4 linked regions of the Homo sapiens genome follow. The protein of the gene in region 2 purifies or fractionates together with the protein of the main gene of each other region. This does not show direct contact. Each region holds a gene or a part of one and is shown on either strand. Other genes may lie near its edges. The genes, in order: FAM110C, CAMK4, CKAP2 and GIT2.

Region 1 (6,911 bases), on a different chromosome or scaffold from region 2:
GCGCGCCCCCGAACGAGCGGCTCCTTCCCCGGGACCCCGCGGCTACCCGGGACCCCGACGCCGCGCGGCCGGCGCGCAGGAGCGCAGTGGAGAGGCTGGCGGCGGATCGCGCCAAGTATGTGCGGGGTCGGCCGGGGACTGGCCGGGGCGTCGCTTCCGAGGGCAGCGGCCCGGGGGCGATCAAGTGCCCGGGGAACGACCCTGGGCCCCCGGCCCGCGCCCCGGCCCCGGTGGCGCGCAGGGCTATTGCGCGGAAGCCGTTGAGACCGGACTCGCTGATCATCTACCGGCAGAAATGCGAATTCGTGCGAGGATCGGGCGCCGACGGCCCCAGGGCAAGCCTGGTGAAGAAGCTCTTCCAGGGGCCGGGTAAGGACAAGGCGCCGGTGCCCCGGACGGGAGACGAGGGCAAGGCCGGGAACCCGGAGACGGTCCCGACCACTCCTGGCCCCGCGGCGGACCCCGCAATCCCCGAGACCCCAGCCCCAGCCGCGCGGTCCGCGGCGCCCTCCAGTGTCCCGGCCGCGCCCCCTGGGCCAGAGCCGCGGGTGGTGAGGCGTCGGGGGCTGCAGCGCTCACAGTCGGACCTCAGCTCCCGCTATTCCGCTGCCTTGGCCGAGTCTGACACCTTCTTCCAGTACTGCGGCCTGGACCCCGAGGTGGTGGAGGCCCTGGGGAGGGAGAACTTCACCGCGGGGTCGGACTGTGTGACCCTCAAGGTGCGCAGCGTGAGCGTCGCCACCTCCGGCAGCGGCTTCTCCCGGCACAGCGGCGGCGACGACGAGGGGCTGCAGGAGGAGGAGCTGATAGAGCAGGTGCCCAGCACCACTTCGGTCATCGAGAGGAACGCCCGCATCATCAAGTGGCTGTACACCTGTAAGAAGGCCAAGGAGACCCCCAGCCAGGAGCAGAGCCGGACCCGAGGTGTGTGCCCAGAAGGCTGGGGGCGGGGCTGGCCGTGTGCGGGGCTGTGAATCTTGGTGAGTGTGACCGAGCTGGGCGATGGCCAGTTACAGCTGCTTAGAATTGAGTGCGATTTTGAGCTACAGTGTGAAAGGGACCCAAGAGACTGACGCAGAGGCTTGTGAGTTGAGCCCCCGCTGCTGAAGAGCAGAAGGTACCAATCCAGGCACCTGCTGGTCCAGGCCCTTAGGAGTCTGCTGCGTCTGGCTGCCTGGAAAGGCAATTCTGCAAATTAATATGTCCCATTTGGCTTATTATTGTGAAAACAGGAGAAATCCAAAATGCTGCCAGAAAGCAGTTTTACACCCCTAGTATTCTTTCCTGAGCTGAAAACAGCTTGAGAGCCCTAGTTCCTGAGTTCATTGACCTGTGCTGTGGGCGGTCCTGATGTTTGATTGGAGCTGACCAGTCCACCTGCAGCCCTAGGTAGGCGCTGCTGTGTTACTGGAACAGAAAGGAAGACTCCCTGCACTTTCCTGGAGGCCTGTGCTGAAGTGGTGAGAACTTCTCCACAGGATCTTGTAGCACTTTGGCATTCACTTAGCAACAAAGATCTTTATTTGGCTAAATTTTATTTAAATTGTTTTGAGAGCTTCAGGTTTTTAAACTGGGGAAATTGGACTAGATTGTAACTAGAGTCTATAGTTTATTTGCCTCTGATGACACTACAGGAAGTAACCTCCCTTTGGACAACCAGTAGTGCCGGATTGACCTCGAGCTCTTTTTGCTTTTCACTGGGGAACTGAGGAGTGCTGGTCTTCACTGTTACCTGCTCTTCCCTATGGGCGTCTTGGAAAGTAGTGAAGAGAAAGAACCTTTTCAGGGCTGTCTTTGAGAACGAACAATTTAAACTTTGCGACATCTTTTTTTTCCTCTTACCCTTCAATGACAACTTGCTATAAGTAAATTTTAAAAATCATGAGATGAAATTATTTTCTGCCATTGTGATAAACTAAGTGAAGATGCATGGCAGCCTGTAGAGTTTGGGGGAGGCTGCCCAAGAGATGTTTGCACAGGGCTCACCTATGTTTGACAGCTAAAAATATCTCCAATAATTTCTCTGGCTATGACTTTAGTACAGACATGAAAATTAATGAGAAGAAGATAATTCATTCTTTTTCTTGAACTCAGAAGGCTCAGGACTTAAGTTCTTCCTTATAATTTATAGAAGATTTGTGTTTTCCACTAGCCTAAGTTCCCAACAAATATATATAGGCAAAGTTCTAAAAAGCAAACAAACATTAATTTGTAGTTTTCACAAATTGTCTTTTGGATCTGAGATGAATGAATGCTGGCAAGGGTATTTCCATGATGGCACCATGTGTAGGGCAGGAGCTTTGGAGAGTGGCCAGGTCCGTGGAGGGACAGTGTCTGGTGGATAGAGCACTAAACCAGAATTAAGGGCCTGTCTTATGTTAGCAAATGATTCCTGCACTATAGACCAGGCGTCCTTTGTCCATAAAAAGAAGGGAGATAGGCGGATGGTTTTCAACCTCTACATTTTCTAGTCTGTGTAGTAATAATCTGTGTTGCATGACTGAAACCCAGAAATGGAAAACAAACAAAAAAAAGTTGTCTATTGAAGTACGTGAGAAGTAAATTTATGAATAAGCTCCCTCCAGGTAGCCATAGCATGTGCAGGCAGTAGGTAGACTTGGTGGTATAAATAGTGGGGAGGTAATAATGTGGCATACAAATGAAACCAAAGTAAAACCTGACAACATAAAAATAAAAGCAGCCTGCTCTGATCCCTCCAGACCCAGGCTGGTTCCCATCTCGAATTAGCCAATGTCAAAAGAGTGACCTGAATGAGAATTTAGTTGACTTCATAGACTAAATCCTAAAGACCTTTTAGGCTTGGACCTATGAAAAATATAAGAAGTTTAGTTAGCTTGTGAGAACTTTCACTTTTATGACAAAGAGAAATAGTTGAAGGAAGAGGGAAAGTGAGAGCAGGTTTGGGAAGGCACTAAGGATGGAGGCAGGAAAAAGGCTCATGGGCTTCTTCCTCCCCTCATGTCTCCCTCCACCTGAATCCCGTTTGTTCCAGACTGGAGACAATGGCAACTGTCTTCTGAGAAGTTTCACATTATTTCTCAGAGCAGGGGTACAGTCCCACAGAAGCTACCCCAGTTTTTATATGGAATTGGCAGTCACCAGCACTATAAAGATTTTCTTTACTAATGTACTTCCCTAGACCCAAAACAGCACAGGCCTCTTTGAAACTGCAATGCAGAGACTTACTGCCCGGCTACCAGGGGTGGGGTGTATGAGGAGAACAGAGTTGCCTGGGCTTTCTCCAGATCACCGGAACAGTGTCTGCTCATGACCTTAGCCCCTTCACAGCTCCCCACCTCCCAGCACTGGTGTTCCCACTGGAGGAGACCAGCAGGGAAAGCCACGACAGAGTGTGAACACCTGGTCAGTGGGGCGGTCCTCTGACTTCCTGCAGAAGTCCCTTGTTCTGAGACCAGTTCTGCAACTTCTGGAAGATGTGGAAGCAGGAATTTAAGCTGTGCTTTTTCTGCTGAAATTTATAAGGATTCATTTTAGGATTTCTTGAAAGATTCAGAAAACTTGAGACGAACAAAGGTAGGTTTTCTAAGTGAAAGAGAAAACAAATATATTTGGAGGTTTTTGTCCTCTTGGTAGATAGAGATTTACAACTTATAATAAAAGTGTCTCAATTATAATAGAACTAAATACGTTTATAAGTTTCTTGCCCCATGGGGTAAAGATAATTGCTTTTCAAAACTGAGACTATCACAACTGGGCAATGACTCGTATAATCCGCACACAAGTCCTCTGGGGAACCCATGAGCAGTAGTTGGTTGTACATGGGTAATTTTGGTATTCTGTTTCCCAGAGCTTAGTTTATGAAAATATCTCTTTTATCTGCTGTGATGTAGTCATCTTCCTGTCTTTCAATTCATCAAACTAGGGACTTGTCAAAATTTAGATCTTTCTGGTTTTCTGTTTTGCGTAGAATATATAAGTTGCTGCTTTTAATACTGGCATAAATAACTTGTCCTTTGGGAAATTAGGCATAAAACATTGCTTAATTTCAAGGCAAAAATGTTCGGACAATTCCACAGCTATCTTCACATTTATCCTTGACACAAAGAAAAAAGAAATACCTGTAGAAGCGCATCGAAAGCTCCTGGAACAGAGTTGTGTCTCATATTTGCAAAGATGCAGAAAAAATAAACCCGGGACATCCAGCTTTCTTTTCCTTTCTTCTTTGACTATTCTGAGAAGCTATGCGACTAGGAGCACATTTTAGGTAAACACGTGGCTTGAGTAGCCATAAGGCCACTCTTCCCTGTCGTGTGACCCGCGCCTGGGCCTTTAAGAGATATTGGTGTTTGAAAAGGGAGGAATCTGTTTGCCCTCAGATATTTAGTTCAACTGCCTGCATTGCTTCCTATTTTGTTGTCCAACTCTGTAGTAGTTAGCACTGGCCTTACCAACATGTAAAGAAATTTTCTTTACTGCCCCATGAGTAGTTGGAGGCAAAGAGAAATTTTTAAAGCGCAGAAAAAGGCCTGCAGGGAGATGGAATTTGTTCTGCCAGAGAAACGAGATGATAGCTGTATTTAATAAAGTTACTGACCTCTTGTCAAAATTTAAAACGCAAAAGAAGATGTTTCAAAATGCAGAGAATGTCAGAAAACAAAAACTACAGGGACCAGACCAGTATAATGTTTAGTTTTCATTATACTAACTTTTGTCTAGACTGGAGTTGATTCACTATTTTTTCTTTAACTCCTCAGGAAGCAAACCTTCCCGATGATGAAGACTTCTTGAAGGATTTCATGGGTGATTTGGGATCCCAGGACCATTTGGCTAGTGTGCCTAGGTGACCACATGATTGCTGTTTTACCAGGAATGCAGCATCCCATTGACAAAACAAGTGCTCTGAGAAGGTTTAAAATACTACAGAGAATATGGGAACACAGACCTTGAAATTTAGCTGAGTTGTAACAGCTGAAACTCCAAGAGGTGTCTTCCTTGTTTGAGGTGAAACTAGTGTTGCTTCCAGAGGGCAGCTGGAAACCGTAAAGCTGTTTGGAAATCTTTTTGACTGACTTGCTGACAAAGAGGTACTGTGATGCATTTTAACAATATCTAAGTTGATTTTTTTTTAAATCAAGGAAAATAAAAACCAAGCATGAATGCTATGGTATGTGCCCCTTTTGACCATCCTGGGCTGATTAACATCATTTAAATCAAAGTAATCATAAAAAGGCATATTCTACTTCAATTATGTGGTCAAATAAGAGTAAACACACACACTCACACATGCTGACCCCAATTGCCAGAGCATTACTGCACTATAAATTACGGTTAATTCCCAAATTATACTACTGTTTATCTTATTTAACAAGTCAGAAAGCACTTTTAAAATAACTTGAGGGCTACAAGGTCATTCTATTAATGTCATTCTCCATTCGGGTTGTAGGCATGTGGAAGTACCCATTAAAAGATAAGTTAGAGTTTAAATACTGATAAACAAAACCTTTTATTGCAACTGGACAGTTTCTGGAGAGTTAGCGGAAGAATCTTGGAGTTTCCTTTGGTCAGATGAATACAACATTTCACTTTTGCAGCACTATTTAGAATGTACTCCATGGTTCTCTTGTTCCCAACTTCCAAAAAGAACAGAAAACTTTGGTTTACACAGAACACGGGCATCTGAGGCAGGACCTCTTCCCTGCCCTTTGATCTGACTCACACCTCCACATATGACGTAATCAACCCAAATTTGACACCAATTCACTCTTTTCTGCAAAGGGCATATTTTGAAACAAGGGACAGCCTGAGGGCGGCTATAATGAGAATGTTCATGGGGGTTACTGGGTCCCTAATTCTGAACTTGCTTATGACACCCAGAGTGAATAGATTCAGATTCAGAACCTTCTGAGAAATAACCCAAAGAAAATTTGTTACCCAGCCAATTCTTCGAAAGCTTAATATCAAAATATATCTTTTCAAGAAGAAAATCGTTAGAGAGAAGAATGTGGAGGGGAGAGAAATGGGTTTCTCATTGATATGATATTTTGTTAACCATTTCATTTTGAATTATTCAAGTTTTGGTTAATATTGTATTCTTTTTTCGTAACTATTTTACCGTGAGAGTAGGTCATTGGGTTACTTAGATATTTATTTTTACACAGTTATTAGTCTTCAGATAGTTTTATTTTACTTCATATGATTTTAGTTTTTGTCAGTATAATTTTAAATCATGTTTTTCTTGGTCATCTCTTTGTGTATATTGTGTAATTGGATTTTCATTGACTGCAAGTGGAGTGTTTGCCACTCAATTCAGTACTCAGTACTATGGTGACTTGTTTTCAAATAAGTCTCAGATACACATTTAGGGAGCCTTTGCTGGCCGAATATAGACTCTGTCAGGACAGCAGGTCCCCTGATCTAAGAATTTTCCCCAATGGTTGCTCTAAAAATGCTGCTATTTTGCTGTTCACTGTATTGCACTTAGTTAAAAAGAAGATAATGTGAAAGATGAGAGCAGTTTTTTAAAGGATCTTTTCATATACCCAATTCCCTTATTTTCAGATGTCCCATCAATTTTAGATATGAAAGCTTTAAGTAAAAGTGTGTATGCCTTTCTACTGTCAGAACAGGATGGATGCAGCCTGGGTCAGATTTATTTAAGATAAAAATCATGCAGACTCATCATTCATATCATAGGTGAAAAATGTAAAAACCAAATGGTTTCCACTAAAGCCACCAAGATCTTTTAGAAATGTTTGCACCTTTGGTGGTGGCACAGGAAAAGAGAAGAATTCAGCTGGAGTGAATTCTAGAAGTAGATATCAGAAACGGGGCATGAAGAACAGGGGAACTGGGTGGCATCAGACTCCTAAAGAAGTGAGTTAATTTTCCTTCCCTTCCATTCAGATTCATGCCACAGCTCCATATCTTGA
Region 2 (7,815 bases):
CATCAACTTACCCTGCTGACCCAATCTGCCATTGCAATGTTCATGCTTTATAAATTTTGCAAAACAAAAATGTATATCCTGAATTTTTCTGTCCTTTTTTTGCCTCTTCTTAGAATGTACCATCTGCCTGACATGCTGTTTGCCAGTGCTCTACCTATTAAAATCCTGCCAAATTTCAGAGTCTACCCCTCCCCCATAAAGACACCCCAGTCCTCTCTGTCACAACTCTGTCATGAAGATGGCTATTGTTCTTAGATTTCTAATAAGTTTTATTCATTTTACTTATTCATTAATTTATCTTTTATTAAATATATTGTTGGTGCCTTATTAGTAGTACCCTATGCACTTGGAGGCCAAATATTGATTTATCATGCTCATTTACACTCTAGGCCCTTACCCCACCACATGCACACTGCCAGCATACATCGTCTAGGTCAGAATTATTGAAAAGCTTAGACTTATAAACAAGAGGACTTTAGGTAGCACAAACGCATGGAATTAAATAACAAGGAATAAAAGAGAGAGCGAGAACATCCTTTTCTTTTCAATTACTTTTCAATGATTCTGATTACATCAAGAAGAAAACTTCAATTTGTGCTACTCTGGTTTTAACTCTGCTAATCTTTGATCATCTCTTTTTTAAGGAAGAAATCAGTCCTCAGAGTTACAGCCTTCTGCATGTGGACAAGTCTAGCTATAATTTACTAAAAATGTTATGTTTCCATTACAATTTATTTTTACAATTTGTTTCTATTTATGGCATATACAATTTGCTTTTATTCACAGTTTTCAATTTAGTGAAAATTGTATTCTTGGTAAATAAATTTAGGTTAACAAAATAAGGTAATTTAAATAAAAATATTAAGCAAATAGCAGAAGTGGAATACACATAAAACAGAAATCTTATGGTAATACATAGAAATGGGAGAAACATTTGGTTGTAGCAGATACTCAGTAAAGCCAAATTAACATAATCTATCAATCTCCTTGTTGTTGTTCACTATCTACATAACTGAAAGAAAATGTGTAAAACACTAGCTTCAAGACATGATTCTCAAGAGGAGAGAGGGGACACATTTGACAATGTTTAGAGACAGTTTTGGTTTAACAACTTATAAGGGTGTCACTACTGGCAGCTAGTAGGTAGAGGCCAGGGACACTGTTAAACATCCTACAGTGCACAGGACAGCCCCCACAACAAGGAATTTCCTGGGCCAGAAGTCTATAGTGCCTAGATTGAGAAACCCTAGTCTAAGAGAAAAGAGGAAGGTCTACTTGCATTACCCTTTACCCATCACTATGAATCACTGTCTCTCCAGACACTGTTCTTTTCTTTATTTGATCTTTACCACTGACAAGATAATGACTGAGGAAAATCTCTGACAAACTGTATTGAAGGGTCCACATCCTTTATGTGCTAATACTATGCCTTCGATATTTAGACCTAACTTCCTAATTAAACCATTGGAGTCATGAAATCTTCAGATAATCCTGTACTACAAATAGATCAAGAAAACTGAGGTAAAGATCAATATAATTTGAGTAAAACCTTGACTCTAGCTGCTATCAACTTCATGAAAAGTTCCTCTTTGTCCTGAATTACATGGTTCCTTGCCTCAAACACCATATTTTGCAGTATGAATTTGACCTTGAAATTTTACAAAATCAATATTCTGTTTATTAGATACGTAGCTTTCCCAAAAGAGTTTTTAAAAAACCCTTTATTTTTTTTAAAAAAAAAGAGGAAAAAAAGAAAAAAAATATTAACAAAAAATAACTAGTAGTTGAAACACTTCACTTGGCTAACACTACTTTGTTCTTAAATGTATTACTGCAAACACATAACCCACACATATATGTCTGAGGGTAAAGTGTTTACAAGAAAGTTCTTTGAAGCTATTTTGTGGTTAGTGTTCTTTTTCTCTCTCTCTTTCAAGTTCTCCAGAACAGTTTAGAAGCAGATGGCACCTGTGTCTTTTTTTTTTTTTTCCCCCAAAATCTGGAGTTATTTTTAACCTTGTGACAGTATTTAAACATGGAAAAGTAGTGTGCTCTTAAAGCAATGATGTTATCGTAGCCTTCACTTGATTTTAAGGTTTTTACAGTGAGTATATTTCCAAATTTAGCATTTACTATGCATTAACTTTAGTGGATGGTATAGCTTGGAGGCATTTCATGCCTTTTAGTCCAACTTGATTTAACTCCTAATTCTGATACACCTGTGGTAAAGTGACAGTGAAGGTGAAACTGAATCCCTTTCATTTCAGAGCCACAAAACACTCTGCCAACAGAAAAGTGACATTATTTTTAACAACAGCAAGCTACAGAGGTGGCAGCTACCAATACTCACACTGAAGAAAGAAAACCAATGCTGATTGAGATTAGGGTTATTGTCAGGCAAGTTTTAGGGAGAAGAGAAAAGGGTTACAGTATTCTCCTTATCCTAGGGTCACTAGAATCAATATCACTACGACATCAGGACCAAGACCTCAAAGAAGAGGAAGCGGGTACACATGCTGCACCCGGCCCATTTCATTATCATTGATTCACCCTCTTTAAAATCATTTGTTGAGTACCTGTTAAGTACTAAGTGCTCTGCTAGACATGAGCACATAATAGTGAACCAGCCAAACCCACAGACTCTGCCTTCTGGAAGCTTACAGTCAGTGTTCCTGGGAAGACCCTATGAAGCCCCAGTTTTTATTCTCCCACTTGCAATCCCACCTTGCTCCTGAGTCAACTGCCTGAGAAAAGAATCAGATGCACAGAGAACAAGACAGGGTTGGCACAAGTATATTTTTAATTCCTAGTAAGATAAAAAAACCTACCATCCCCCAAGAGCTGGAGCTTCTAAGTGCAGTGTGTGTAGCAGGAGATCAGAAGCCAGCAGTATACCTACCCAGATAGGCCATGGGGCCCTAAAGCATGGTGTCGGAAAAAATCAAGGATCTAAGAAGCTCTGGTCACGAGAATGGTTTAGGAAATTGGTTGACCAAAAAAAAGGAGAATCTGTTTCTTCAGCAGCCATGCTGTGGACTGAATTGTGTCCCCTCAAAATTCACATGTTGAAGCCTTATTCCAACTCCAATATGATGGTATTTATAGGTGGGGCTTTTGGAAGGTAATTATGTTTAGTATGAGGTTATGCAGCTAAACCCCTCATCGTGGGATCAGTGCACTTGTAAGAAGAGGCACCAGAGAGCTTGGTTTCTTTCTCTCTTCCCCTCTCTTTCTCTCTTCCTCTCTGCCTTGTGACGACACAGCGAGAAGGCAGCCATCTGCAAAACAGAGAGTCCTAACTGAGGAAATGCATTGGCTGGGACCCTGATCTTGGACTTCCTAGCCTCCAGAGCTGTGAGAAATGCATATTTATTGTTTAAGCCACCCAGTCTAAGACATCTTGTTATATCAACCAGAGCCAAGAGCACTAAGACAAGCCAAGAACATTGGCTGAAGCCCTTCTCTTAGAAAATGCACGCTTTCGTGTTTCCTTATAGAAAGCATTTGCTCACTGTGACCTGGAGCCAGAATACATGTTACCATGTAGAATATACCACTTCTCAGTCTCTGAGTTCCTTCCCAACACAGCCCCTGGCACTCTTAGCCAGTTCAAATTACTGTGTGCCCAGCAGACCTTAGGGAGACACCAGAGTTTTTCCAAAATGTTTAGAAGGGGAAAAATCAGTAATGACCTGGAGGCAAAGATAGGAGCCTTTTTCTCTACAGGGCTGTGCCAAAAGGATACCACCCAATGTTGCCAATTGGTCTGCAGGGAATTTCTTTAAAAGACTCTGCCTCATAGCTTAATCTATCACACACAGATTTATGGCCTACAACAGCACTTTTCAAACTGAATCACAACACATTAGTGGGATGTGAAATCACATGGGTTCAGCCAAGTTTTTTTAACAAAATAGATGAAATCAAACAGCATATAATAGAAAATATTAAAGTGCATTGCTGGTAATAAGAATAAACACTGTTTTATGAAATTGTTTCTGTTTTATACACACACACACACACACACACACACACACACACACACCCCTTACTATGGAAATCTATTTGGTTCCTAAACAATAATACATATAGCAAGGGATCCTATATAATTAGTTTAATTGAGTTGACAAATAAATGTATTTAAAATTATAAATGTATACACATAATTGTGTTTACATAAATGTGACACATAAATGTATTATTTAAAATTACATTGCAGTGGGGAGGAGTATGCAAAGTGCCTAGCCTAAAGAAACTACAGTAAGTGGAATGGGAACTAAATTTAAAGAAAAAAAAGGTTCCAAAATAGTTTAACACATTCTTCTCTTGTTCTAATTATCTTTCATTTGGTTTGGTTTCCTTGGATTTGTATGTCTGGGAATACATCTGGTTTTCTTATCATCTTTTCTTTCAACATGGAACAACAGTGAGAAACTAAAGGTGAGACAACTGAAAACAGGACATGGGTTTGCATGCACAGACGAAATCTGCACCACCAAGCAGGCTGGGCCATTTCCTGTCATTCCATGTGCCAAACCACTGGGCGGGATCTGGACCAGAGGCAGCTCCCTTCTCCCTCAGAAAAGCCTTTAAAATGCCAGTTTCTCAAATCACTGGGCAAAAGACCAACTGCTCTCGAGGATCTGGAGCCCTGAATAGGATCATGGCCAATTCGTATTTTTAAGTAGAGTTGAATGTGTGTGTGTCATGATTTTTGTAAACTTTTTGAAAAACTCTATGAACAAAACAGTGTCTTCAAATGTGATTTTAGGAAAATTACTTTGCCTGATACTTTTAATTCACCCGTAACCCCTATACTCTATGCCCTCCCTGCCAAAAGAAAGTGAGCACATCTGTCTTGGTCTCAATGGCTCCATGTGGATCAGTGCTGCCAGCACCTGCCTTCGCCAGCACTATCCAGGGGCTTCAGGTGGATATAGCCTTGGGAGTTTAGCTCCCCTTGAGTTCCCAAACACATCCTCAGGGTGTATCGCCCCAGTGGTCACCGTCCAATCTTCTTGCAATCAGGAGTCACTACTTTACAACAGACAACTGTAATGGAGGAGCCAACAAATCACTAATTCTGGTGGAGACTGTCTACTTTCTAGAGCTAACCACAACAGCAACACGTAACACCAGAAGCACTGTTCTCTTAGTATATTAATGACAACTGCATTACTAATGAATTAGAGTCACACTAGCAGGTGGATTTGGTCCAAAGCTGAGAGTAAAGGCTTGAAACTGATGACCTGAGTTCAACTTGATCTCTAGTGTAGGAAGAAAGAAGATTTTAGTCACTCAGCCAATATCTACGATCATCATTCTGTTGCATTCTCTGGCTCTATCGATTCTTAATAATTATATCTAGAATAGTAGTTGATGTTTTAAGTTTATTTACTTAAAAATTTCTGATAATGAAAATGATACTTCTCAAAGTCTCAGCCAGAGTAAGCATGCACCCCACGAATGCTGCCATGTACAGAAAACTTACCTAACAATACGCTTTACTGCTGACAAACAGAGCCTAAGTAAGACATTTTAGCTTTTATTGTTCCTCAATGTAGTTTAACTCTGTGATCTTTTACAGTAATCATAAGACTAGATAATAGAGCGAGAATCTTAGCAATGTATAGACAGAGGGTCTCCAATAGGATGGGCTTAACTTACAATTTTTCGACTTTTATGATGGTGGGAAAGTGATAGCATTCAGTAGAAATCGTACTTCAAATTTTGATCTTTTCCTGAACTATACATGGTAGGATACTCTCTCTGATGCTGGGCACCGGCCATTAGCCACAGCTCCCAGTTAACCACAGGAGGGTAAACAACCGGAACTCTAGAGTGTTCTCTGTTGTCAGTGTTTTTTGAATATTGTGTTTTGTGTTTCATATCTCACCATGTCTACAAAATCCCATCTGTACACGGTATTTAACAGTTATTATAAAATAGGCTTTATGTTAGATGATTTTGCCCAAATGTAGGCTAATATTAAGTGTTCTGAGCATGTTTCAGGTAGGCTAGGCTAAGCTACAACGTTTGTTAGCACAGGTGTAGTAAATGCATTTTCAACTTCTGATATTTTCAACTACAGTGGGCTTATTGGGACATAACACCATCATAAGTTGAGAAGCTTCTGTATAACCGATTAATATTTGTCCTCCAAAATTTACTGCAACACGTAATTCTGAACTGAAAAATAAAAAACCCAAACTTCAAATTTCTCAGTTTTTTCCTATGCAGGCTACCATCTCATAGGGGTATACAATTGGCAGTTTATTTTTTTCCCATTTTTCAAATTAAAGTGAATTTCTTGAGTTTCATGACGATGAAGCTTATTCATAAAGACAACGTGTGTGGATAAGTCAGCCTATTTGAGGCATCTAGGGTTAATGTTACTCTGAAAACAGATGTGCTACTGGGACAGTCCCTGCAGCAGCATCAGGCACTTCCTCTACTACACAGTAGTTTATAAAACACCCAGTAAACAATTTTAAGTAGATCATCCCTTTACTCAGAGGTTTACATGGTTCCACTGTCACGCATCATACAATTAATAACAGGCATGTTTTGGACCTTACAAAAATCGACATCATTGTCCTTTCATTTCCACCTATATATATAATAGATCTTCAGATGAATACTGAAAAACTTGATCAAAAATGGATGTTTATGTATACATTATTCAGTGCTCAAATACTTCAAAACATTTTTAACAGTGACAAATCACTGAATTTTCATTCAGAAGTTTGCCTATTTTACACATCTATATTCAATGAGCCTTCAATAGTACTAGCAAAGTGGGGGGAGAGTGGGCAGTGATCATTACATCTTCCCACTAAATACCAACATCCAGAATCCTGCTCTGGATCCTCCAATGACTTGAAAAAATAAAAAGGCTGTTAGCAATACTATTTCCAGCAAAAAGAGAATGAAAAATGAAATTGCAAAGGAGTAGTAAGTACAGAAGCTGCAACTTGTCAACCGTTGAAATTACATCTTCAGATTCCCTATACTAAAGAGCCTGGATCTAAAATAAGTGTTGAAAATAAATCTCCTTACCTATGGATAACAGAGAGAAAAGACAAAAAAAAAGGAAGTAAGGGAAAGAAAACTATAATTTTCAATGGATACAAATACGAAAGCATATGGAATCATGCAGAAGGCCAAACTGCTACCTGTTTGGATCTTCAGAGGAGGGATAGGGGACATATCTGCAATCCTAGGGAGATGGTCTGTTGCATATATAATTTAAATAAATCACTCCAGCCCATGAAAGAAGGGAAGCAGCAGCATTCTCACTAATTACCACTGCCTGGATCCCATATGCTGCTTTCTCTTTAAAGCCACACTAGTTCATTATTCTGCCTTCAACTCTCTTAAATGATTCATTTCTCCCTTCACTCCTGAGCAGACTCTGCAGGGAAGCTAGTATTTAAGTTTAATTTCTCGTGTCACTTGCTTTGGAGAGCTTGACGAGGGGAAGGAGGAGGAATCTAACTTAATAATTCTGTCTTGATTTGGAGGGGCACCCTCCGGCCCCCACCCTAAACAATAACTAGACAAACAGGACCCTCTGGCAAGCTATAATCGTGAGCAAAGATATCAATTGGGAAAGCAGGGCCCACGTGCGGTGGGAGCTGTCACCCAAGGGAAGTGGCAGCCTGCGAGAAGGAGGGAAGGTGGGAGGGAGTCGGGCTGATCCTACAGCTGCACCGGCCTAGGCGCTCTGGTGGGGTGGGAAGGACTCGAGCCGCACCTGAATGAAGGTTAGCTCTCTCTCAAGACACTAACTAGGTAGGGAGAAATCGAAGGGCA
Region 3 (8,334 bases), on a different chromosome or scaffold from region 2:
TTTTATTTAGGCATTTTCAATATTAATACAGACCTCATGCGTGAATTTACATTTCAATATGTAGTTCCTCTATAATTTAGCTGTTTGTTGGTCTGCGCAAAGCCATCCATGGCCGCTGCTCTCACCCACCAGGCGGCCTCGTGCCCCTAGCCATTTCATTTTTGTATTTTGCTTTATAAATGGAACACCTGGCCGGGCGCGGTGGCTCACGTTTGTAATCCCAGCACTTTGGGAGGACAAGGCGGGCGGATCACAAGTCAGGAGTTCGAGACCAGCCTGGCTAACATAGAGAAACCCTGTCTCTACTAAAAATACAAAAAATTAGCCCGGCGTGGTGGCGGGTGCCTGTAATCCCAGCTACTCGGGAAGCTGAGGCAAGAGAATCGCTTGAACCCTGGAGGTAGAGGTTGCAGTGAGCCGAGATCGCACCATTGCACTCCAGTCTGAGCGACAGAACGAGACTCTGCTTCAAAAATAATAATAATAAATAATAAATAAATAAATAAATGGAGCAGCTTATAGATGTCCTTCTACAATTGATACATATTTTTCTCTTTAGGATTATTTTCTTACAGTGTCTTCCTAAAATAGAATGACTGCTTTAAAGGTTGTGAACACATTTTAGAGAGCCTACCACTTATTGGGGTCTTAACTAAGGCTGCGTGCCCACGTGGGCAGAGGGGCACAGGGGCAGAGGGACAGAGGGCAGGCTTGCTCTCTGCCCCCAGGGCTCCACATTTCCCCCAGTCGTGGAGTCAGTGGTCTGTGGCTAGGCATTAAAAGAAAGGAAAGGCTCTTTCCAATGAGTATAAGCCATCTCTCCCCCGAAATGAATTGCTACTTTTACCGTGTTCCAAAATCCTGTGTGTATTTTGGTCTATTTCTAAACAGTGTCTTCTGTATTTCATATCTTTCAATTTCCATCATGACCATATACCCAATAACCAAAAGTTCTTTGAAAACATTTGATTTGCTGTAATATGCTATCAATATATATCACAATTTACCATCATTGCCTGATTTTTGAGCATTTGATTGTTTACCAACTTTTTAGTCTTTTTTAATTGAAAGTAATGTGACCTAAGCATCCTAATCAGATGTGGAACTGTGCAGTTATGCCTGGGCTTTGCAATTATCAACATGTTAGGCAGTGAGGACATTTGCAAGGTATGTTTTCTGCCCTTGAGGGATGTACAGTCTGTAGGACACAAATAGAAGCCTGGCATATGATAGCTGCTGGGATAGACAACCGTATAAGGGTTTCCTGTATCCAGGCTGGAGCAAGGAGAAACGTCATGTGGCTTATATATGGCAATAAATGAATAGACAAAAGGTTTTAATTTTTATGAAGTTCAGTGTATTTTTTTCTTTCATAGTTCATGGAATTTGCCTATTTAAGAAATCTTTTTTCCACAAACCAGATATTGATACTGATTATGAAATCTTTGCCTAACACAAAGTCACTAAGATTTTCTCCTATAATTTCTTCTAGAAGCTTCATAGTTTTGGTTCTTACATTTAGGTCTATGCTTTTTTTTTTTGAGACAGAGTCTCACTCTGCCGCCCAGGCTGGAGTGCAATGGCACAATCTCGGCTCACTGCAACCACTGACTCCTGGGTTCAAGCGATTCTCCTGCCTCAGCCTCCCGAGTAGCTGGGATTACAGGTGCCTGCCACCACGCCTGGCTAACTTTTGTATATTTTGTAGAGACAGGGTTTCACCATGTTGGCAAAGCTGGTCTTGAACTCCTGACCTCAGGTGATCCACCCGCCTTGGCCTCCCAAAGTGCTGGGATTACGGGCATGAGCCACCACGCCCAGCCATCCCCAGGATGTTTTTGCCAGGACCTCCCACCTTCTGAATCAGATGGTTCCTTTCAGTCCCAATCCTACTGGACCTCTGTAGTGCCCAACACTGTGGTCCATTACCTCTTTCTTCAGCTTCTCTCTTCCCCAGACTTTGTGACCCCATTGTGTCCCCATTGTCCTCCTAACTTTCAGATTGTCCTTCCCTGTTCTCTCACAGGCACTTTACCTTCTTCACATGACCACAGGAGGAACGACTAACACTAATTAATCATCAGTACTCCAGGTGCCTGCAGTTTCATGGTCAGCTGTGTTGGCAAAGAACTGTTCTGAAAGGAAATCTTTTTTGTTTTGTTTTTTTTGTTTGTTTTTTGGATCTTTTAGAAAAAGGTCTGCTTTCTCTGCAATAATTGTGTAGCAGTAATATTAAAAAGTGTCTCAAAAATAGACATATCATTGGAGTGGGTGAGTCTGGAGATTAGAGGAGAATTGCCATTTTGAAAAACCTAGCAGTTTGGCAGGTTTTCCTATTCATCTCAGCCTACTGAGATCTCCATGGTATCCTTTGAGTCAATTTCTTTTTTTACCATGCCCACTTATAAAAAATTATTGAGGTTCACATAACATAAAATTAATCATTTTAAAGTGAACAACTCAATGGCATTAATACATTTACAATGTCACCCAACCACTACCTCTAATTCCAAAACATTTCACTTACTTCAAGGTAATGAAACCCTTGTCCATTAAACTGTCTCCCAATTCTCCCCCTACCCTCAGCCTCTGGCAACTACTATTCTGAGTTATTTCACTATGGATGTATCTATTTTAGATCTTTCATATAAATGGAATCATACCATATGTAACTTTTCATATATTACTTCTTTTACTTAGCATAATGTTTTGGAGGTTTTTGAGTCACTTATTAACGCTGTATTTTGTTCTCACTTAATAGAAATCCCTGGTTGCCCCACCTGTCTGATGAAACTTTAGTAAATAATCAACAATAATGACAGACGTATTTAAACAGCAAGTTATATCTTAAGGATGGTGATGGACAATGTTAAACTAAAACTGGGACATTTCATCAAGTAAAAAACTACACAAAATCTCAAACCAAATTCCTCATTAGCAAGACGCTACCATAAGATGTCTGAAGAAAAAAGCAGGCAGAAGTGGGAAAAACTGACCACAGCCGAGGGCCAGCTGTGGAGGCCCTCAGACCTGGGAAGGGTAAACGGGGAAATCACATCCTCCCGTCTGTGTGCCCGGAGCACCTAAAACCTGGCTGAAAGAGTCCAGTCCAGCCTTACTGCAGTGATCAGGCAAGAAATGTAAACCCAGTGCTTGAAACCAGGCAGGTGCAGTCCAGACTCGCCCTCACTTCCCCACTGCCACTCTTAAAACCTTCTAGCCCTGACTTGTTTCGTTCTGTCATGTGGATTGAGTGTTTGTGTGGGTTTTATGAAGGTGGTATTTTTAGATGAGAAAAACGAAGATTATGGCGGCACACTTAACCACACAAACACAAAACGTCTGTAACAAATGCTATTTTATCTTCAAAGGAGAATTATATATAACCTTGAGGAGGGGATGAGGTTTATCTTCATTTTTTTCTGTTTCTCCTCCTCTCCTCCCTTTTTTGCATTTGATAATTGCTTAGAATAAAGGTATGGAAAGTAGATCCCAATTTCAGTTCCCCTTCACACGCTGTGCAAACGTGGACAAACAACCTCTGAACCTGTCACCTCTCAGTGGAAAAAGTGGTGATAACGTCCCACCTCAGAATTGATGCTCAAAATGAAGCAGTATTTGTGAAACGAAAATACACACGCTCGTGGTACGCCAGATCGGTGTTTACGTCCTCGTCAGTGAACGCGTCGATGTTTAATAAGAAGGGCAGCCAATCAACACTTTTCTTGTCTTTTTCTCGTCTGCCTTCCTCCAAGGACTGTGAGGGTCTCAAGATGTGTCCCATCTCGGTTGTTTGTCAACCTAGTCCTGCTATGTCGTGGGGACTGAGCAGGCCGACTCCTCCCCCATCGCACGTCCAGGATGAAGAGCGCTGTTTAGGTTTGAAACCTGCAGACTCAGTCCCAACCGAACTGGGCAGACACCAGACCGGCCCCGGCAACTGCAGTCCAGGCTCCGCCTCCCTACGCCCATTGGCTTATTCAATTCACGCAGGAACCAATGGGCGGAGACGGCAGCCGCGCCGTCTGACGGCTTAGCCGCGGTGCAGACTGCGGCGGCGGTGGTCTGAGGAAGTTCTATCTTGGCGCTAAAGCGGAGACGCATCCCCCGACCCGAGGCTACGATGAGCACACCGGCCGTGCCCCAGGACCTGCAGCTGCCCCCGAGTCAGAGGGCGCAGTCCGCATTCAAAGGTGAAGGCCGCGGTGGCGGTGGCGGTGGCGGTGGCGGTGGCGGTGGCGGGCGCGGGCCCGGCGGTCGGGGCTCGGGGCCGCGCTGGCGCGCTTCACCTCTCCCCCGCTCTGTGAGATCCCTGAACGCGGCGTCGGCCTCGCCCTGCCTCATTCTTGGCCTTGTGGAACGGATCATAAAAACAGGAACCGCTGCGTGGTGTTACTGTGCGGTCGCTGCTGGCTGGGATGGGCCCTCCTAAGAAGGAATCCGTTAGGCGAGGGGAAACGCGCGGGCCTCAGGCCGGGGTCGGTGTCGGAGACCCTGGGTCCGCTTGGGGGCGGGGCTGCACAGGTTCAGGGACCGACTGCGCCTGCGCTGGGTCCTCCGCCTCTTAGGTCCCTAGCGAATTTCTGCAGGGCTGGGGTCGCATCATGTGTTATTTCCAATTTCACAGCTTCTCCTTCGACTTTATGGAAACCGAGGGTTGGTTGGGTCTTCAAAACTAATATTGTTATTCCCTTATTCTACACACGGGAAAGCAGAAGAAAGTAATTCTCATCTAACCCAGTTCTGGTAAATTAGAACTTTCGAGTCTAGTGCCTCACTTCTACCATTTAGTTTCTTAAAGCTTGGCTAGCAGGAGCTGTATGTAGAAAATGATGTTCTCCAGATTTTTCACAGGGAGTAGAGAATGTGATTCTTATGCAGAGGGGTTTTGGGGACCTGTTGTGGTAACAGTCTCTTCTAAGGTGATTTCTCAAAGGCAATATTGAATTGGAGAATTTTCTGTTATATAGATGTGACCTCAGGTGGAACCAGCTTTGGAAGTAAACTCTTCATTTAGTCAACAAGATTTATTTGCCGTTATCGATGTTTTAACTAATATTGACTTGTAGCTCTTACCTTTGTTATCTAGAGCAAAGAAGACAAAAACTCAAGGAACATCTGTTGAGAAGAAAAACGCTTTTTGCATACAAGCAGGAAAATGAGATGTTATCCAGGTAAGGTCAAGTTTATTTCTTTTCACTTCTGTAAAATTGTATCAGATCTGTCCAATGAAAATGTAAAGTAAGCCATATCTGTAATTTTAAATTTTCTAGTAGCCACATTTAGAAAAACTGCTTACATATTATTTTACGTCTTTTTGTGGTACAACGTCTTTAAAATCTGGTGTCTATTTTACAGTTACAGGACATTTCCATTTGGTCTATCCACATTTCAAGCACTCAGTAGCCACATTGGCTAGTGGCTACTTTATTGGATGGTGCAGCATTAGATCATCGTTTTATTAATTTTTTTTTTTTTGAGACAGAGTCTCACTCTGTTGCCAGGTTGGAGTGCAGTAGCGTGATCTTGGCTCACTGCAGCCTCCACCTTCTGGGTTCAAGTGAATCTCCTGCCTCAGCTTCCCAAATACCTGGGACTGACTACAGGCAAGTGCCACCATTCCCTGCTAATTTTTGTATTTTAAACAGAGACCGGGTTTCACTATGTTGGCCGGGCTGGTCTTGGACTCCTGACCTTGAGATCCGCCCACCTCAGCCTCTGAAAGTGCTGTGATTACAAGGATGAGCCACCGCGCCCGGCCTAGATTATCGTTTTCTACGTAAATTAATTCACAGTCTAAGAGAAAAAAACAATTATAAAGCAAAGTATGTGCATAGACTAGATTATCAACTTACTGTTTACACCACACAAAGGTCAGTCTTTCTATTATTTAGCAAAGCTTTTTACTCAGTGTATGGGGGAGTTCATCAGGGAAGGGTTGGGTGGCCCTCCCAAATGCTTAGAGATTACTAGTTGTAGTCTCAACCCTCCACAGAAATATCTTTATTATTTTGTTAAAATATCTTAGATAGTACATAGCTGTAGCAAAAACAAAAACCCATGAAAGTAGATGAAGCAGAAAGGCAAAAGGTCCCCTCACTCTCTAGGGATAACCAGTAATAACATCCTTACAGGCTTAGGCTGGGTGCTGTGGCTTACACCTGTAATCCCAGCACTTTAGGAGGCTGAGGTGGGCAGATCACGAGGTCAGGAGATCAAGACCAGCCTGGCTAACACAGTGAAACCCCGTCTCTACTAAAAATACAAAAAATTAGCCAGGCATGGTGGTGGGTGCTTGTAATCCCAGCTACTGGGGAGGCTGAGGCAGGAGAATCGCTTGAACCTGGGAGATGGAGGTTGCAGTGAGCCGAGATCGTGCCATTGCACTCCAGCCTGGGTGACAGAGCGAGACTCCGTCTCAAAAAAAAAAAAAATTGTCTCAGGTAAACAAAATTGTATATACCACCCACACACATATTCAGAGAGTGGAAATGATAACGCAAATGGGATAAAAATTTTAACAATAGGTGGATCCTGGGTAAAGAGTGTACAGATATTCTTTGACCTGTTTATATTTTTGCAACTTTGTGTAAGTTTGGCATTCTAAAATTTTAAAAATAATTTCTAACTTTATATTAATAAGTTGCTTTAGTTTGGAATAAACAGTTTATCCTTCACAAATAAATCTTTTATTTCTTTGTTTAAGACAAAAAGGTGATCCTAGGTTTTTTATTTGAATAAGTAAATGAATGGTGATAACCGTATACTGAAATAGGAAGCCTGAAGGAGGAGCTGGGGAATTAGGAGTTCTGTTTTGACTATGTTTGAGGTACCAACCAGACATCCAAGCAGATATGCCAAATAATTGTGTGTCTGAAGTTCAGGGGAGGGGTTGGGGCTGGAAGCATAAACTCAGGAATTGATTAGTATACAGATGATATTTACTTAAAAACCTTAGGATGGAATGAAATTACTAGGGAATAAGTAGAGATAATATGGATTCAGACAGTGACTCTCAACCACTTATTTAAATAAAGAATCCAACAAGGTCAGGGGTTTATAATACTCTTAATAGGAAGAAAAGAAAATTCTAAAACGCTTCATGTGGCTTAAGTACTACATTTATTCCTTTCAGAAAACAGATGTTGGCTGGGTGCAGTGGCTCATGCCTGTAATCCCAGCACTTTGGGAGGCTGAGGCGGGTGTATCACTTGAGGTCAAGAGTTCTAGACCAGCCTGGCCAACATGGTGAAACCCCGTCTCTACTAAAAATATAAAAATTAGCCGGGTGTGGTGTCAGGCGCCTGTAATTCCGGGGAGGGCCGAGGCAGAAGAATCGCTTGAACCTGGGAGGCGGAGGTTGCAGTGAGCCAAGATCAGGCCATCGCACTCCAGCCTGGGTGACAAGAGCGAGACTTTGTCTCAAAAAAAAAAAAAAGGAAAACAGATGTCAATTTAAATGTTATCACCTCAGCAGTGAATCATTAAATAAGACAACCAACCTGTGTTGCAGCTTTTCAGAATTAAACAGTTATATTTTACAATCTCTAAAGTATAGATATCCTAAGACTCATTTCCGATAACCCTTCTGAGGGCAGTTTTATAATAAGACAGAATAGGATTAAGTCTCCCCACTGGACAGGTGAGTAAGATGGGTTCTTCTTGTCATCCTGAGTTTTGTTTTGTTAGCTGGCAGTTAGCTACTAAGATACCCTGTTAAGTGGCACATTTTGATCTTCCTTCACCATTGTTCAAAATGTATAGTACAGGTTGTGTCAAAGTTCTGTTCCTTCTCCAAGCTGACAGAACAAATAGATATGAAAGGCAATGTAAGCAAAATTATTAACTACTAAATTATGTCAAATGTAAAATATATATATATATATTTTGTTTTGTTTTGTTTTTTTGAGACGGAGCCTTGCTCTGTCGCCTAGGCTATAGTGCAGTGGCGCGATCTCAGCTCACTGCAACCTCTGCCTCGTGGGTTCAAGCGATTCTCCTGCCTCAGCCTCCAGGGTAGCTGGGATTACAAGCATTTGCCACCATGCCTGGCCAATATTTTTGATTTTAGTAGAGACAGGGTTTCGCCGTGTTGGCCAGGCTGGTCTCAAACTCCTGACCTGAGGTGATCTGCCCACCTTCTCTACCCAGAGTGCTAGGATTACAGGTGTGACCCACTGTTCCTGGCCTCATTTTTTTTTTCAGAGAATGAGAGATCACGCATTTTAATGTGATCTCTGAACTTAGGATCTGTCTTAAAATCAATGGCATGTCTAATTGACCGTATTTTTTCCTATCGTTATAGTACACAAAATTGTTAAAATCACTTGCTAA
Region 4 (7,815 bases), on a different chromosome or scaffold from region 2:
TAACAACTAATAATAATAACTGTTATTATAGCATTTGTATTCTTTGAGCACTTTATTATATCACTAAATCCTTATAATAACCCTGTGAATAGGGCCAGGCACGGTAGCTCATGCCTGTAATCCCAACACTTTGGGAGGCCGAGGTGGGAGGATCACTTCAGCTCGTAAGTTCGAGATCAGCCTGGGCAACATAGTGAGACCTCATCTGTATTGAAAAATAAAAAGTTAGCAGGGCATGGTGGCCGGCGCCTGTAGTCCCAGCTGTTTGGGAGGCTGAGGTGGAAGGATTGCTTGAGCCCAGGATACTGAGGCTGCAGTGAGCCATGATCACTCCACTGCACTCCAGCCTGGATGACAGAGCAAGCGAGACCCTTTCTAAAAAGAAAAATGCCACCTTTTAAAATTTTTTTTATTTTTTATTTTTTTTGAGACAGGGTCTCGCTCTGTCACCAAGGCTGGAGTGCAGTGGCATGATCACAGCTCACTGCAGCCTCCACTGCCCAGGCTCAGGTGATCTTCCCACCTCAGCCTCCTTAGTAGCTGGGACTACAGGTGCGCATGCCACCACACCCAACTAATTTTTGTATTTTTTGTAGAGCCAGAGTCTTGCTATGTGGCCCAGGCTGGTCTCAAACCCCTGGGCTCAAGTGATCCTCCAACCTCAGCCCCCCAAAGTGCTGGGATTACAGGCATGAGCCACTGCATCTGGCCATTGTTGACATTTTTGAGATGAGGAAAGTGAGGTTCAGATTGCTTAAAGCCCTTTCTCCAGGCCACACAGCTTGAAGTGGGTATAGTTTGAAATTCAGGTCTGTCGTATGTCAGAGCCACGCATAGTCACCTCTTCACACAGTCCTGCCTCTCACTCAGGTTCTGGTTGTGCCACTTCTTAGATAAGTCATGCATTTGGGCAAGTCAGCCTTCACAGCCCTAGTTTCCTTATCAGTAAAGTGGCCTCACTCCACCTTACAGCCCAGGGACAGTTGTGACTGGCAAAGGAGAGACTGGTCCATGCACTTTACCGAGACAAATAAAGATTATGCGTTACTGATGTAACATATATTAAAATGGTCTATCAGCTGCCCTAGGACATCATTCTTTACACCTCTAACCACGATTCCTTTTTTGTTTCTGCGTTTTTCAGCAACTCCATTCGAGCGTGAGAACAGGGAATCTTGAAACCTGTTTGAGACTGTTATCTTTAGGAGCACAAGCCAACTTCTTTCATCCTGTAAGAAAACATGAATTGCTTCAGATATTGAAACTAAGTGAGTTGTGTTCATGTAGCCTTTATTTAATGTGCTCTTTTGCCTACTTTTTATTAATGATTCTTAGGAAAAAGGAAACACCCCACTCCATGTTGCCTCCAAAGCAGGGCAGATTTTACAGGCTGAATTATTGGCAGTATATGGAGCAGACCCAGGCACACAGGATTCTAGTGGGAAAACTCCCGTTGATTATGCAAGGTAAGAGACCTAGATTCTCGCTACTTCTCTCTGGGATTTTTTTGTTGGGTGTGATTCCTTGTTAAGTAGCTAAGTTGTATATGTTGATATTGAACCCCTTTAAAGATGTACGTTATTTTATTTTACAGATGAAGACATTTCAAATGCATATAAGCTCAGCCTGGCAAAGTTGAGGAAGGCTAGAATCATGAACCAGTGTGCTAAGCTTCCAGTCTTTTACTTGATCCTTTATAACACAGTGATGTTTGAGCTGTAGTCAGATTCCAAATCAAGTATCAAGAATTACAGAATGTACTCTTCTGTTTTTTAATACTCTTAGTTATTTCTTGAACTTAAAAGCAAATATATACATAGATATGTGATTAAACAAGTATAGTAAAAAGTTAATTGTAAGGTTTGGGTAGTAGACATCTAAGTGCTCACTCTAGGCCAGGCATGGTGGCTCACACCTGTAATCCCAGCACTTTGAGGGTCCAAGGCGGGTGGGTTACTTGAGGCCAGAAGTTCGAGATCAGCCTGGCCAGCATGCTGAAACCCTGTCTCTACTAAAAATACAAAAAAAAAAATTGGCTGGGCATGGTGGCAGGCACCTGTAATCCCGCTACCCGGGAGGCTGAGGCAGGAGAATCACTTAAACCTGGGAGGCAGAGGTTGCTGTGAGCCGAGACCATGCCACTGCACTCCAATCTGGGTAACAGGGCAAGACTCTGTCTCAAAAAAAAAAAAAAAAAAAAGTGCTCACTGTAAAATTATTTAAATTTTTCTTTATTAATAAAGTCCTTGAAAAATAAATCTATAGGTTAGTCTTGAATATCATTTAAATGGCCAAAGATCAGTCATCTTTCCTTCTTTTTCCAAAGTACTTTTATTAACTGTGAAGCACAATACTCTGTTCCACAGAGGATAAAATGGGTGAATAACAAAACTCTGCCTTCCCAGAATTTACTCTCTTGGAAAAGATGATTCATAAATGCCTGAAAGAGTTCAAGGAGGCAAGACCATATGGGATTCATTGCCAAAATAGATAATTGGTCTTAAAAAGCATATATAGGGTTTCTTCATTGTGGTCCAAATCATTTAAGAAATTTCTTCAGCTGGTCTTGAAGAATGGGTTGGATTTGAATGTGTGAAGGGAGAGCTGAAGCATTCCAGGTAAGAGGAAAGGCAGGAGTCAAGATCAGGAGGCAGGGAGGGACAAAGTGTGTTCAGCACAGCAGGAGACCTGACTGGAAAGAACAGAGTGGGTCTGGGAATAACAGCAGGAGTACAGTATTGCATGGTGCTTCATTATTTCACAGAGCACTAAAAAAGAAAAGAGTTCAGCCAATTAAATTATGGTGTATCATCAATTGTAGGACATTTCCTGATTTCACAGATACTAAAAAATGAAAATAAGATGTGCCTCTCACAAATCAAAGCTGTGTGGTAGGTTGAAGGGTGTTGTGAGTGCCTTGAATGGTGGGGAGAGAAGCTGGCTGAAACTATCAGGTTGGTGCAAAAGTAATTGCAGTTTTTGCCATTACTTTTAAGGACAAAAACCACAAAATATACTTGATCTTGGACGAGAGCCCTGGGTAAATGATACTTATTATCACTTACCTTGGAATTTTCGCACTTGTACCTTGCATATAATAATCTCAATATAATTTGTATCCTTGTTGCTGAAAGGATTCTAAGCAGCCTAAGTATTTATTTCATGGATGTTGAAAGGTAAACTTAATATTTTCTGTTGTGCAAATTGAAGATAAGGAGGCAGAAGTAGCTGCAGGCGTGAGCTGTGCGTTAGGTTGGCGTGTCTCTCACTGATTTGAAGCCTTTGAAGTGGTTACTAGACTCTTATCCAGAGTCAGACTGGCTGCATCAGCATCACCTAGGGGAAGGACCTTCTTCAACATATTGGCCCCTGGCCCCATCCTGTCCCCATTGATTCAGAATTTCCAAGGGTGGGGCCTGCACATGGTATATTTCTAGAAATGCGCTAGTTAATTTTTGAGAACTTCTACCGTAAACCATTGATTAATTTCATTTTTTTACCTCATTAAATTAAGTCATTCTGTATCCTTCCCTCTCATAAGTCTTTGAATTTCTTATTAAATATTCTATTTTGGCCTTAATAAAGGAAAGGCGATAGTTCAGATGGTGAAAACAGTTTATAAAAGTGGGATGCAAAGTAGACTTCAGAAATCTACCTACCACAAGAAGGTTGATGATTCTCAAAAGTCTTGTGTGATAAACTGCTCAGGTGTCTCAGGAGACGTCTTTGTACTCCATTTTAAAGTCAGTGAATAGTGAGCAATATAAATGGTACTTTGTTTTCTCTTGGTAGGCAAGGAGGGCACCATGAGCTGGCAGAGCGCCTCGTGGAAATACAGTATGAGCTAACGGACAGACTAGCCTTCTATCTCTGTGGCAGGAAACCAGGTGAGTGGATGGAGAATGACCGTTTCACATCTCCAGTTGGGAAGGTTCTAGAAAAACAAGTTGGGACACTATTTGTTATTACCTCCTCTGCTGTAACATATCACTGAGAAAGCTATACATATGGCTTTTAATTTGAAAGGATAACTACAGAATTGTCAGTTACATGTAAAAGATATAAAGTTGGACAAAACTCCTTAGATTTTTCATTTTTAATAGCTCTAGAGAAATGACTATTTCAAGAATCAGACTGAATAATCAAAGCAAAATTGAATGGGTACCACAGTTCTTGAACATGGTGGGACTAGGAATGTAGGAGCAAAGCAATAACCTTTGTAGTTATTTGAAAAATTCTTCTTAAGGAATGGAAAAAAAGTCCAGAAGTAAACTTTGCCAAAGCCAACTTGGCTATTTGTGATAGGGAACAGGGGTCAGCAAACCATGGTTTGTAGCCCAAATCTAGCCAGTTACTTGTTTTATTAAACAAAGTTTTGTATCGTGCCACTGCACTTCAGCCTAGGTGACAGAGTCAGACTCTGTCTCAAAATAAATAAATAAAAATAAATAAATAAATAAATAAAGCTTCTGCCGGGTGCAACGGGTCATGTCTGTAATCCTAGCACTTTGGGAGGCCGAGGCAGAAAGACTGCTTGCACCTAGGAATTCGAAAGTAGCCTGGGCAAGAGGGGTGAGACTCCGTCTCCACAAAAAAGTTTTTTAAAAAATCAGCCAGGCATGGTGGTGTGCGCCTGTAGTCCCACGTACTTGGGAGACTGGGACTTGAGCCCAGGAATTCAGGGTGGCAGTGAGCTATGATTGTGCCACTGCACTCCAGCCTGGGTGCAGTGACAAAGCAAGACCCCCAACTCTCTAAAAAATAAATGAATAAAGTTTTATTGCAAGAAAGCCGCGCCCAATTATTTATACCTTGTGTATGGCTGCTTTCACATAACAACAGCAGAGTTGAATAGGTTAAGTCGTTGCAACAGGCCAGATGGCCACAAAGCCTAAAATATTTACTATTTGGCCCTTTAAAGAAAATATTGGCCAACCCCTGATGTACAACATTCACATACATGTATGCAGTGATTCTCCATCCTGGTTGTATGATAGAGTTAAGAGCCTCTGGTATAGTTTCAGTTCTGGGTGAGATGGAGTAAGCACACCCCACCGTGTCTCCTGCAAAATAGAACTAACAGACCTGGACCAAATGCTTGGAGTAGCTAGCTAAAGACTCTGAAAAGTAAATCCTGGTTGGTAGATTAGGGAACTCAAAAGTGTCATCAGCTGGTGGTGAGTGTCCTGTTTGTCTTACTTCTGATAGGACTTCAATGACAGCCTGAAACCTGGAGGTACATAATGAGTGCAAAAAAGCCTTTTTCTGCGGGGTGCGGTGGCTCACGCCTGTAATCCCAGCACTTTGGGAGGCTGAGGTGGGCGGATCATGAGGTCAGGAGATCCAGATCATCCTGGCCAACATGGTGAAACCCTGTCTCTACTAAAAATACAAAAAAATTAGCTGGGCATGGTGGCAGGCGCCTATAGTCCCAGCTACTCGGGAGGCTGAGGCAGAATTGCTTGAACCCAGGAGGCAGAGGTTGCAGTGAGCCAAGATTGCGCCACTGCACTCCAGCCTGGGTGACAGAATGAGACTCCATCTCAAAAAAAAAAAAAAAAAAAAAGCCTTTTTCTGGTTAAAGAGCAGGAAATGGGACTTCTACAGGACAGAGAGGAAGGGGATTCCCCTGGGGTTTTTTCCTCCTCCTCCTTCCTTTTTCTGATCTCTCCCATCCAGCCCCTAGGCAAGCCTGTGGCTGCAATAGCAGCAGCAGCAGTGGCAGCACAGGTTCCTAAATCTCTGAGCAAGGGGATGAGGGGGGATCCTGATTGCTTGTCTTTTTCTCTCTATTCTCTCACCATCTGCCCAGGAGGCAGAACCTCACCTGGTCAGTTGCCTGCTAAGACAAAAATATGAACATTTTTGCATAAAGTTTAAAGAAGGCCCAGAGTCTCATAACAAAACATTCACAGTGTCTAGGATATCATCCATAATGACTTGACATCTGAGTAATTCTCATGTACTTGCCAGGGAAGGCAGCCAACAGATGCCAACCCCAAGATGACACAAATGTTGGCGTTATCAGACAAAGATTTTAAAGCAGCTAGTAAGACCATGCTATAAGAAGTAAAAGCAAACATTCTTGAAACAAACAGGAATATAGAAAGTCCCATCAGAGAAATAGAAGATACAGAAGAGAACCAAATAGGAATATTAGAACTGAAAAATACAAACACTAAAAATTTAAAACTTACTGGATGGGCTTAATAGAAGAATAGAGATGACAAAGAAAGTCAATGAATTGAAAACAGATCACTAGAAATTATCTGGTTTAAGCAACAGAGAGGAAAAAAGAGTAGGAAGAAAAGACTGAACAGAGTCTCAGGGACCTGTGGGAAAATACTAAAATGTCTGACATTTATGTCGTTGGATTCCCAATAAGAGATGAGAAAGAGTGGTGTGTGCAGAAAACGTATTTGAAGAAATATTGGCCAAAAAAACCCTCTAAATTTGGGACAGGCTCAATGGCTCACACCTGTAATCCCAGCACTTTGGGAGGCTGAGGCGGGCAGATCATTTGAGGTTGGGAGTTTGAGACCAGCCTGGCCAACATGGTGAAACCCCATCTCTACTAAAGATACAAAAAGTAGCCGGGCATGTTGGTGCGCACCTGTAATCCCAGCTACTCAGGTAGCTGAGGCACAAGAATCACTTGAACCTGGGAGGTAGAGGTTGCAGTGAGTCCAGATTGAGCCACTGCACTCCAACCTGGGCAACAGAGCGAAACTCCGTCTCAAAAAAAAAAAAAAAAAAAAAAAACCTCTAAATTTGGTGAAAGACATAAACTTACAGATTCAAGAAACTTAGAAAATTCCAAAGAAGATAAACTCAAATCCACAGTTGAGACACATCAAAATCAAACTGTTGAAAACTAAAGTTGAAGAAAACATCTTGAAAGCAGCCAGGAAAAAGTGACACATAACATATATAGAAAAACAGTGATTTGAATGATTGTGGATTTCTTATCAGAAACCATAGAGATGAGAAGGAAATGAAATAATACTTTGTTTGTTTGAGATGGAGTATCTCTCTGTTGCCCAGGCTGGAGTGCAGTGGTGCAATCTTGGCTCACTGAAACCTCCGCCTCCCAGGTTCAAGCGATTCTCTTGCCTCAGCCTCCTGAGTAGCTGGGATTACACGTGCCTGCCACCATGCCCGGCTAATTTTTGCATATTTAGTAGAGATGGGGTTTCACCATGTTGGCCAGGTTGGTCTCGAACTCCCGACCTCGTGATCCGCCCACCTCGGCTTCCCAAAGGGCTGGGACTGCAGGCATGAGCCACCTCACCCAGCCAGAATAATACTTTTATTATTATTATTATTTTGAGACAGGGTCTCACTCCATCGCCTAGGCTGGAGTGCAGTGGCGTGATCTCGACTCACTGAAACCTCAACCTCTTGAGCTCAAGTGATCCTCCCACCTCAGCATCCACAGTAGCTGGGACTACAGGTGTGTGCCACTGTGCCCAGATAACTTTTGTATTTTTTGTAGAGATGGGGTTTCACCATGTTGCCCAGGCTGGTCTTGAATTCCTGAGCTCAAGTAATCCACCCACCTGGGCCTCCCGATTACAGGCATGAGCCACTGCTCCTTTTTTATTATTATTATTTTTTCTCATCTTCTTTGTGATGGTAGAAACAATACTTTTAAAGTGCTAAAAGAAAAGAGCTGTGAACCCAGAACTCTATATCCAATGAAAATAACTTTGGAATGAAGGCAAAATAAGGACATTCTAACAGGAAAAAAAAGAATTATTCTTTACTTTAACAGAAATGCTAGAGAAAGTTCTTTGGGTGGAAGGGAAATGATGC

What was found.
Region 1: the proteins of CAMK4 (region 2) and FAM110C purify together in Homo sapiens (affinity purification with mass spectrometry; one large-scale study listed by BioGRID and IntAct). This does not show direct contact.
Region 3: the proteins of CAMK4 (region 2) and CKAP2 purify together in Homo sapiens (affinity purification with mass spectrometry; one large-scale study listed by BioGRID and IntAct). This does not show direct contact.
Region 4: the proteins of CAMK4 (region 2) and GIT2 purify together in Homo sapiens (affinity purification with mass spectrometry; 2 studies listed by BioGRID and IntAct, with this or other methods). This does not show direct contact.

Annotation. Positions count from the first base shown.
Region 1 is NC_000002.12:39,453-46,363, reverse strand, and holds part of FAM110C (protein FAM110C), read left to right. Parts: coding exon 1-924; coding exon of another isoform or gene 925-974; exon of another isoform or gene 975-980; intron 981-3,298; coding exon of another isoform or gene 3,299-3,405; exon of another isoform or gene 3,406-3,555; intron 3,556-4,058; exon of another isoform or gene 4,059-4,246; intron 4,247-4,736; coding exon 4,737-4,756; 3' UTR 4,757-6,911. UniProt on the Homo sapiens protein: May play a role in microtubule organization. May play a role in cell spreading and cell migration of epithelial cells; the function may involve the AKT1 signaling pathway.
Region 2 is NC_000005.10:111,224,740-111,232,554, reverse strand, and holds part of CAMK4 (calcium/calmodulin-dependent protein kinase type IV), read right to left. Parts: intron 1-7,815. UniProt on the Homo sapiens protein: Calcium/calmodulin-dependent protein kinase that operates in the calcium-triggered CaMKK-CaMK4 signaling cascade and regulates, mainly by phosphorylation, the activity of several transcription activators, such as CREB1, MEF2D, JUN and RORA, which play pivotal roles in immune response, inflammation, and memory consolidation.
Region 3 is NC_000013.11:52,451,434-52,459,767, forward strand, and holds the start of CKAP2 (cytoskeleton-associated protein 2), read left to right. Parts: upstream 1-4,044; 5' UTR 4,045-4,123; coding exon 4,124-4,193; intron 4,194-4,554; exon of another isoform or gene 4,555-4,746; intron 4,747-5,089; coding exon 5,090-5,174; intron 5,175-8,334. UniProt on the Homo sapiens protein: Possesses microtubule stabilizing properties. Involved in regulating aneuploidy, cell cycling, and cell death in a p53/TP53-dependent manner.
Region 4 is NC_000012.12:109,977,024-109,984,838, reverse strand, and holds part of GIT2 (ARF GTPase-activating protein GIT2), read left to right. Parts: intron 1-1,144; coding exon 1,145-1,231; intron 1,232-1,335; coding exon 1,336-1,466; intron 1,467-2,312; exon of another isoform or gene 2,313-2,768; intron 2,769-3,659; exon of another isoform or gene 3,660-3,792; coding exon 3,793-3,887; exon of another isoform or gene 3,888-3,934; intron 3,935-7,815. UniProt on the Homo sapiens protein: GTPase-activating protein for ADP ribosylation factor family members, including ARF1.